Homo sapiens: one gene and its partner. The protein of the gene in region 1 purifies or fractionates together with the protein of each later gene. This does not show direct contact. Each region holds a gene or a part of one and is shown on either strand. Other genes may lie near its edges.

Region 1 (5,185 bases):
TTAATTTTATATAGTTGTAATAATATGTAACTTATTTTATTTATTTATTATTATTTAAAAAAAATTTTTGTTTCAGACGGAGTCTAGCTCTGTCACCCAGGCTGGAGTGCAGTGGCGCAATCTCAGCTCACTGCAACCTCTGCCTCCTGGGTTCAAGCAATTCTCCTGCCTCAGCCTCCTGAGTAGCTGGGATTATAGGCATGTGCCACCACGCCCAGCTAATTTTTTTTGTATTTTTTAGTAGAGACGGGGTTTCACCACATTGGCCAGGATGGTCTCGAATTCCTGACTTTGTGATCCACCCTCCTTGGCCTCCCAAAGTGCTGGGATTACAGGTGTCAGCCACCGTGCCTGGCCACTTATTTTTATTTTTTAAAATAGAGATGGGGTCTCACTATGTTGTTTAGGCTGGTCTTAAACTCCTGCCCTCAAGCAATCCTCTTGTCTTGGTCTCCCAAAGTGTTGGAGTTACAAGTGTGAGCCACCACCATGCCCAGCCAATATGTAACTTTATTAAAAATAATAATAATAATAGAGATGGGGTCTTTCTATTTTGGCCAGGCTGGTCTTGAACTCCTGGCCTCAAAGGATCCTCCCACCTTGGCCTCCTAAAGTGTTGGCATTACAGGTATGAGCCACTGTGCCCAGCCAATATGTAACTGTTTTTTCATTCAGTGCTCTAAACATTAACCCATATTAAATTTGTCAACATTTTTATGGTTACCAGGAGTTCGAGACAAGCCTGGCCAACATGAAGAAACCCTGTCTCTACTAAAAACACAAAAATAAGCTGGGCATGGTGGCACGTGCCTGTATTCCCAGCTATTCGGGAGGCTGAGGCAGGAGAATTGCTTGAACCCGGGAGACGGCGGTTGCAGCAGACCGAGATCGCACCACTGCACTCTAGCCTGGGTGACAGAGTGAAGTTCGTTCATAAATAAATAAATAAATATACACATACATACATACATACATACATACATACATACATACATACATACAAATAATCCTGGGAAGGACCTCTGCACAACTTTCTTGTGTAACTCTAATTATTTCCTTAGGACAGGTTTCTGTTAGTCTATTCAATGTCCTTAAAAGGGTTCTATTGACCTGCACTTCTATCCAGAGTACTTCCATCACTCTTACATAAAAAAGCTGGTTTTGCAGCCATAAAAGAGAATGTGTCCTTTGCAGGGACATGGATGAAGCTGGACATCACTCTTACATAAAAAAGCTGGTTTTGCAGCCATAAAAAAGAATGAGTTCATGTCCTTTGCAGGGACATGGATGAAGCTGGAAACCATCATTCTTAGCAAACTAACACAGGAACAGAAAACCAAACACCACATGTTCTCACTCATAAGTGGGAGTTGAACAATGAGAACACATGGGACACAGGAAGAGGAACATCACACACCAGGGCTTGTTGGAATGTGGGGGTGAGGGGAGGGAGAGCATTAGGACAAATACCTAATGCATGTGGGGCTTAAAACCTAGATATCGGGTTGATAGTTTGCAACAAACCATCATGGCACATGTATACCTATGAAACAAACCTGCACACTCTGCACTTGTATCCCAGAATTTAAAGTAAAATTTAAAAAAAGAGGAAAAAAATAATTAAAATCAATCATATAGTATGTTAGAAGGTAATAATAATAATAATAATAATAAAAAGTGGTTTGAGATCCATAGTTAAAAAATAGTGAACTCAGGCCAGCTGCCATGGCTCATGCCTGTAATCCAGTGCTTTGGGAGGCTGAGGCTAGATCTCTTGAGGCCAGGAGTTTGAGACCAGCCTGGGCAACATAGCAAGACCCTGTCTCTACAAAAAATTTAAAAATTAGCTGGTTGTAGAGGTGCACACCTGTAGTTCTAGCTACTCAGGAGGCTGAGGTGGGAGGACCACTTGAGCCCCAGGAGTTTGAGGTTACAGTGAGGTATGATCGTGCCACTGCGCTATTGCCTGCATGACAGAGCAAGACCCCATTTCATTAAAAAAAACAAAAAACTCCCCTCTCCCTCTCCCTCTCCCCCCTCTCCCTCTCCCCACGGTCTCCCTCTCCCTCTCTTTCCACGGTCTCCCACTGATGCCGAGCCGAAGCTGGACTGTACTGCTGCCACCTCGGGTCACTGCAGCCTCCCTGCCTGATTCTCCTGCCTCAGCCTGCCGAGTGCCTGCGATTGCAGGTGCGCGCCACCACGCCTGACTGGTTTTCGTATTTTTTTGGTGGAGACGGGGTTTCGCTGTGTTGGCCGGGCTGGTCTCCAGCTCCTAACTGCGAGTGATCCGCCAGCCTCGGCCTCCAGAGGTGCCGGGATTGCAGATGGAGTCTGGTTCACTCAGTGCTCAATGGTGCCCAGGCTGGAGTGCAGTGGCGTGATCTCCGCTCGCTACAACCTCCACCTCCCAGCCGCCTGCCTTGGCCTCCCAAAGTGCCGAGATTGCAGCCTCTGCCCGGCCGCCACCCCGTCTGGGAAGTGAGGAGCGTCTCTGCCTGGCCGCCCATCGTCTGGGACGTGAGGAGCCCCTCTGCCTGGCTACCCAGTCTGGAAAATGAGGAGCGTCTCTGCCCGGCCGCCATCCCATCTAGGAAGTGAGGAGCACCTCTTCCCGGCCGCCATCCCATCTAGGAAGTGAGGAGCGTCTCTGCCCGGCCGCCCATCGTCTGAGATGTGGGGAGCGCCTCTGCCCCGCCGCCCCGTCTGGGATGTGAGGAGCGCCTCTGCCCGGCCGCGACCCCGTCTGGGAGGTGAGGAGCGTCTCTGCCCAGCCGCCCCATCTGAGAAGTGAGGAAACCCTCCGCCTGGCAACCGCCCCATATGAGAAGTGAGGAGCCTCTCCGCCCGGCAGCCACCCCGTCTGGTAAGTGAGGAGCGTCTCTGCCCGGCAGCCACCCCATCCGGGAGGGAGGTGGGGGTCAGCCCCCGCCCGGCCAGCCGCCCCGTCCGGGAGGGAGGTGGGGGGGTCAGCCCCCCGCCTGGCCAGCCGCCCCGTCCGGGAGGGAGGTGGGGGGGTCAGCCCCCCGCCCAGCCAGCCGCCCGGTCCGGGAGGTGAGGGGCGCCTCTGCCCGGCCGCCCCTACTGGGAAGTGAGGAGCCCCTCTGCCCAGCCACCACCCCGTCTGGGAGGTGTACCGAACAGCTCATTGAGAACGGGCCATGATGACAATGGCGGTTTTGTGGAATAGAAAGGGGGGAAAGGCGGGGAAAGGATTGAGAAATCGGATGGTTGCCGTGTCTGTGTAGAAAGAGGTAGACACGGGAGACTTTTCATTTTGTTCTGTACTAAGAAAAATTCTTCTGCCTTGTGATCCTGTTGATCGGTGACCCTACCCACAACCCTGTGCTCTCTGAAACGTGTGCTGTGTCCACTCAGGGTTAAATGGATTAAGGGCGGTGCAAGATGTGCTTTGTTAAACAGATGCTTGAAGGCAGCATGCTCGTTAAGAGTCATCACCACTCCCTAATCTCAAGTACCCAGGGACACAAACACTGCGGAAGGCCGCAGGGTCCTCTGCATAGGAAAACCAGAGACCTTTGTTCACTTGTTTATCTGCTGACCCTCCCTCCACTATTGTCCTATGACCCTGCCAAATCCCCCTCTGTGAGAAACACCCAAGAATGATCAATAAAGAATAAATAAATAAATAAATAAATAAATAAAAAACTGGACACCCTACTACCCACACCCACTTTAAGATATAGATTACAACCAACACCGTTAAAGCCCTTTTGCATGCCCTTCTCCATCCCAGCCCCCTCCTAAATTTTGTTTATAATGATCTCGCTTTTCTTCATAATTTTACCTCCAAAATATGCATCTGTAAACAATATGCTGTTTTTGCAAGCTTTTGAACATTATATAAAATAAATCATACTGCATGTTAAAAAAAAAAAAACAAAAACAAAAAACTCAAAGGTGCTCTTACCGAAATGATTTCAGATTCTTCTGTAACATCAGACAATGCCATGTCACGACGATAGCCCCAGGAAAACTTGTCAATGCTGGTGCACATCTCCCACTTGTGATCTGGCAAGCTCTGTGGCTTGAATTTATCTTCACAGTTATAGTATCCTCCATGGTGACAGGAACAGTTCTGACCCCATCGGTCATTTACTACCACCTCATCCTAAGGAGGGAAAGAATATTTGGTCATGAGGAGTAAAACCACTTGACTTCTTTATGTAATACACTTTGGTAAGGCTCTATTTGGAAGCAAGAAACTTAGTCTAGAGCAGTGGCTGTCAACTGGGGGCAATTTTGCTCTGGAGGGGACATTTGGTAAAGTCTAGAGACATTTTTGATTGTCACAACGGGGGTGGTATGCCATCTAGTGGGTAGAGACCAGGGATGTTACTAAACGTCCTACAATGCACAGGACAGCCCCCACAGCAAAGAAATATTCAGCCCTAAATGTCAACAGTACTGAGGTAGAGAAACCCTGCTGCAGAGATACATGTCAGGGCTGGGAGAGCTTGCTTTAAAGATCATCTGGTAAATCACTTTTTCTATAAGAGGAGAAATGAACAGGAGAGGACCTGCCTGGGGCCATGCCCCTAGGCAGTTTCAAAAGCTGGAACTACAAATCAGGTATCTGAACCCATGGCAGGCTGTTTTCCAACTATATAATCCCAGCCTTACTTACGTAAAAAAAAAGTCTTAAGACAATCCCACTCAAAAAAAAAAAAAATAGCAAATTCTTTTTCTTACTTCAAGGTTTAGCTGAAGAATGATAAATCATACATGGAATATCTTAATGTAAATGTTAAATGCAGCATATTTTATAACAGAGTGGCCAATACAAGATAAAAACTGAAACCATTTGGGAGGCCAAGGCAGGCAGATCATGAGGTCAGGAGATAGAGACCAACCTGGCTAACACGGTGAAATCCCGTCTCTACCAAAAATACAAAAAATTAGCTGGGCATGGTGGCACATGCCTGTAGTCCCAGCTATTTGGGAGGCTGAGGCAGGAGAATCGCTTGAACCTGGGAGGCGGAGGTAGCAGTGAGCCGAGATCGTGCCACTGCACTCCAGCCTAGGCAACAGCAGAGCGAGACTCCGTCTCAAAAACAAAAACAAAAACAAAACTGAAACCATGTTCAATTCATCACGGCAAAAAGAGATTTATTAAAAGTTTAAAATTCCCATTTCTTGCCTGTTTTAGAGTCATTCACATTGG
Region 2 (5,185 bases), about 12 Mb from region 1:
TCACTTGAGCCCAGGAGTTTGAGACAAGCCTGCGCAACATAGTGAGACCCTGTCTCTATTTTAAAAATTAAAATAGGGCTGGGCACGATGGCTCACGTCTGTAATCTCAGCACTTTGGGAGGCCAAGGCAGGTGGATCACCTGAGGTCAGGAGTTCGAGACCAGCCTGGCCAACATGGTGAAACCCCATCTCTACTAAAAAAATACAAAAATTAGCCGGGCATGGTGGTGTGCGCCTGTAATCCCAGCTACTTGGGAGGCTGAGGCAGGAGAATCACTTGAACCTGGGAGGCGGAGGTTGCAGTGAGTCGAGAATTCGCCACTGCATTCCAGCCTGGGCGATGGAGCAAGACTCCATCTTAAAAAAGAAGAAAAAAAAAGGAAAACAGATAGCTCCTGACCTGCGTGGATCTGAACTCAGTGCTTCTTAACCCCCAGAAACCACAGGCAAAGGGCATTTTCTGCGTTTCTCTGGGAGCAGAGCCGTAGCTTTCATCAGATTCTCAAAAGGGCCCATTTATCCACAAAATCAGCAATCAGTGGATCCGGTTCACTTCCCTTTTGTAAAGATAAGAAAACTGAGTCCCCTGTGGGGAGGAGGTGTGACTTGCCTGAGGTCACTCAGGAAGACAGGAAGACCTGCGGCAAAGCAATGTCATCACCAGCCACAGACATGAGGCCAGGCCCAGGGATGTTTGCGGCATCAAGGGTCAAGTAGCCTTTTGCTTCCCAAGCTGCCTGTCCCACCAGCTGAGTTCCTGCCCCTAGCCCAGGACTCCTTCACCTGGAAGGTGGGAGGGCCGGGAAAGTGGGGAAAGAGGGCCCACCTGTAAGGACCTGGTATGCAGGGCAGGGGGTCCAGCACCTGCTGTGCGCATCCCCCAACTCCTCCCAGGCTGAATGCTCACTTGTCCCCCGCCCCCAAGAGAGACATGGCTCTGCGCCAGGATATCCAAGTGGCCCCTGGGGACCTGGGGATGAGGCCAGTGACCTCTCAGCACAATGGCCAGAAAGAAGCAGCCCATTTCTCCTCCCTGGGCTCGGGCCCTGCCTGGAATTCTTCCTATCACCCCTCTGAGGATCCACCCCTCCCCGTGGGGGCTGCTCACCCAAGGCTCCATCCAGGTTCTGGAAGATACGGCAGCGGTGGTCCAGGGTGATATTGATCTGCTCCTGCAGGAAAGAAGGTACCAGACTGCAGCAGGGACAGGCCCTGGGGGAGGCTGGGGCTACATCTCACCCAGTGTGGGGAATCTGTCCCCAAGTTCAGCCCTCATTCCCCACACCGACTCTGCCACGTCACATCAGGGCAGCTAGGTGCCCAGAGAAGGCCAGCAGCCAAGCTCCTGGGGTCTACAGTCTAGTGGCTCTACTCACAGAAAACCAGGGACTCTGAACTGGAAGGAATCTAAGAATGCAGCCGGCTCACCTACAACAATGACGGCCGTTAAGAGTAACCAGCACCTGCCAAGCACTCCACTACACGCACATAGCTACTCCAAATATTCTTTTTTTTGAGAAAGAGTTTCGCTCTTGTCACCCAGGCTGGAGTGCAATGGCACGACCTCGACTCACTGCAACCTCCGCCTCCTGGGTTCAAGCGATTCTCCTGCCTCAGACTCCTGAGTAGCTGGGACTACGGGCATGTGCCACCATACCCAGCTAATTTTTTTTTTTTTTTTTTTTTTTTTTGCTAGAGATGGGATTTCACCACATTGAGCAGGCTGGTCTCGAACTCCTGACCTCAGGTGATCCGCCCCCGCCCCCCGCCTCCCAAAGTGCTGGGATGACAGGTGTGAGCCACCGCACCTGGCCGCTACTCCAAATATTCTACACGAGTCGGGTGCGGTGGCTCACTCCTGTCATTCCAGCACTTTGGGAGGCTGAGGCAGAAGGATCACTTGAGCCCAGGAGTTTGAGACCAGCTTGGGCAACATAGCAAAACTTCATCTCTATAAAAAAATCTTAAAATTAGCCAGACATGGTGACGCAGGCCTATAGTCCCAGCTACTCAGGAGGCTGAGGTGGGAGGATCGCTTGAGTCCGGGAGGCTGAGGCTGCAGTGAGCTATGTTTCTGCCACTGCGCATCAGCCTGGGTGACAGTGAGACCCTGTCTCAAATAAATAAATAAACTATTCTACATATATTAATCAATTTAATCCTGACAACATCTCTGTGAGAAAGTATTATCATTATTGCTTTTTTTTTTGAGATGGAGTCTGGCTCTTGTCACCCAGGCTGCAGTGCAATGGCACAATCTCGGCTCACTGCAACCTCCGCCTCCCAGGTCCAAGCAATTCTCCTGCCTCAGCCTCCTGAGTAGCTGGGATTACAGGCACCCACCACCACGCACGGCTAATCTTTATATTTTTAGTAGAGACAGGGTTTCATCATGTTGGCCAGGCTGGTCTCAAACTCCTGACCTCAGGTGATCCACCCGCTTTGGCCTCCAAAGTGCTGGGATTACAGGCATGAGCCACTGGGTCTGGCCCATTATTGCATTTCATAACGGAAAAAACAAGGGACAGAGAAGTTGCCCAATGTCACACAGCTAGTAAATGGTGAGCTGGGATTGGAACCCAGGCAGCCTGGCCCTGAAGTCCTTATTCTGAACCAATGAACAATGCTGCCTCTTTAAGACCCGACAGCCGGGCACGGTGGCTCACGACTGTAATCCCAGCACTTTGAGAGGCCGAGGCGGGTAAATCACCTGAGGACAGGAGTTCGAGACCAGCCTGGCGAACGTAGTGAAACCCTGTCTCTACTAAAAATACAAAAATCAGCCAAACGTGGTGGTGCACGCCTGTAGTCCCCGCTACTCGAGACGCTGAGGCTCGAGAATCGCTTGAACCAGGGAGGTAGAGGCTGTAGTGAGCCGAGATCGCACCACTGTACTCTAGCCTGGGCAATACAGTGAGACTCCATCCCAAAAATAAAAAAATAGGATTAGTGTCCTTATCAATGAGGCCCCAGTGAGCTCCCTACCCCCTTCCACCATCTGAGGACACAGAGAGAAGTCAGCTGTGTCTGTACCAGTTAGAGGGCTCTGACCAGAACCCAACTGTGATCTCACCCTTCCGGCCTCCAGAACCATGAGAAATCCACATCCGTTGTTTGGGAGCCACCCAGCCTATGGCAGTTTGTCAGAGCAGCCTGCATAGACTAAGACACCAACCCAGGGGTTCAGGCCTGAGAGGAGCTGTTCCCGTGCAGCCTGGCCGGTGGATCCCCAGCCCCCTCTCCTTGGCCCGCCCACTGCCTCTTACCCTCTTCTCCGGGTCCAAGAAGATCTTGGTGTAAAACAGCTGATCGCTGTCGCTGTCCTGGCCCTCCCACTCGGCCACCAGTTTGCTGAGGTTGGGGGCATAACCGATGAAGCCTGAAGGTTGGTGGGTGGGGACACCAAGACGGACCCTTAGCTTCCAGCCTCTAAGTCAGGGGCCTCCTCCCACCCTTCCCTCTTATCCACCTCCACTCATATGCCCACAAACCCTGTCACCTCTCAGAAGTCCTCCTGAATTGACAGGAGGTGGGGCTGCAGGTTGGAAATGGGGCTGCCAGTGAATGTCACTTATTAATGAGTTCCTAATGACCCCAAGAATAAGACCAATGGTGCCCACTAAGCTGTACTGTTCAGTGCTGGGCACCATATAGGTGGTGAAGAAACGGATTGTACGAGGAGCCCCTGGAGAGCAGGGCTGGGAGGATACAGGCCTGGTGTCCCTTTTTACAGTTATCTGGGAAACCTGGCCCAGAGAAGGGAAAGGCTGGGCCAAGCTCACAGAGTGCCTTGGGGGCTGAGACCTGGCATAGTGGGGAAGCCCACATGGGCCCCTGGCTAGAGTACAGACTGGTGACAAGCAACCACAAGAGCAATGGGACATCCCTACTCCTGGGCCTGGGCCAGGGCAAGGCCATCTGGACTGTGCTTACTCTGGACCAGTGGAAAAAAGTGTCTGTTGAGGGCAGATGGCAGATCCCCATCTAAGGTTGAAAAGAGGCCTGTGGATTTTATTCTCCGTGCAGTGGAAAGTCATTAAGTGATGTGTGTGAATTTGCATCTTTATTTATTTATTTATTTTTAAGACAATGTCTCGCTCTGTCGCCCAGGCTGGAGTGCAGTGGCACGATCTCGGCTCACTGCAAGCTCCGCCTCCCGGGTTCATGCCATTCTCCTGCCTCAGCCTCCCGAGTAGCTGGGACTACAGGCGCCTGCCACCACACCTGGCTAATTTTTTGTATTTTTAGTGGAGACGGGGTTTCATCGTGTTAGCCAGGATGGTCTCGATCTCCTGACCTCGTGATCCGCCCACCTCGGCCTCCCAAAGTGCTGAGATTACAGGCATGAGCCACCAATATATATATTATATATATTATATAAATTATTATATATAATATATATAATATATTTTACATTATAAAAAAATATAGTATTATTTTTTATTTAAAAAAATTATTTATTTTTTTGAGTGCAGTGGCACCATCTCAGCTCACTGCAACCTCTACCTCCTGGGTTCAAGAGATTCTCCTGCCTCAGCTTCCCAAGTAGCTGGGATTACAGGCGTGTACCACCACGCCCGGCTACCTTTTATATTTTTAGTAGAGATGGGGTTTCGCCATGTTGGCCAGGCTGGTCTTGAACTCCTGGCCTCAAGTGATCCTCCCACCTCGGCTTCCCAAAGTGCTGACATTACAGGCGTGAGCCACCGCGCCTGGCCTTGGATTTGCATCGTTTAAAGACACCTCTGGCTGCTGGATGGAGAATGGCCTGGAAGGGCATGAGGGTAGGGAATGGCAGAGCAGTAAGGAGGCTCCTACCAACGGCCAGGAGCCCAGTGAGAATGGTGGCAGTGAACTGTGGGCCAGAGAGAGCAGATTCCAGAGATCTTTAGGAAGTAGGAGGCAGGTGGCCAGGTGTGGTGACTCATGCCTATAATCCCAGCACTTTGGGAGGCCGAGGCAGGTGGATCACTTAAGGCCAGGAGTTCGAGACCCACCTGGCCAACATGGCGATACCCCATCTCTACTAAATATACAAAAATTAGCCGGGCATAGTGGTGCATGCCTGTAATCCCAGTGACTTGGATGGCTGAGGCAGGAGGATTGCTTGAGCCCAAGAGGCGGAGGCTGCAGTGAGCTGAGATCCCACCACTGCACTCCAGCCTGGGCAACAGACTGAGATGCC

What was found.
Region 2: the proteins of FUCA1 (region 1) and PLOD1 fractionate together in Homo sapiens (co-fractionation; one large-scale study listed by BioGRID). This does not show direct contact.

What each region holds. Positions count from the first base shown.
Region 1 is NC_000001.11:23,850,429-23,855,613, forward strand, and holds part of FUCA1 (tissue alpha-L-fucosidase precursor), read right to left. Parts: intron 4,133-5,185; coding exon 3,932-4,132; intron 1-3,931. UniProt on the Homo sapiens protein: Alpha-L-fucosidase is responsible for hydrolyzing the alpha-1,6-linked fucose joined to the reducing-end N-acetylglucosamine of the carbohydrate moieties of glycoproteins.
Region 2 is NC_000001.11:11,950,817-11,956,001, reverse strand, and holds part of PLOD1 (procollagen-lysine,2-oxoglutarate 5-dioxygenase 1 isoform 2 precursor), read right to left. Parts: intron 3,380-5,185; coding exon 3,267-3,379; intron 1,173-3,266; coding exon 1,109-1,172; intron 1-1,108. UniProt on the Homo sapiens protein: Part of a complex composed of PLOD1, P3H3 and P3H4 that catalyzes hydroxylation of lysine residues in collagen alpha chains and is required for normal assembly and cross-linkling of collagen fibrils.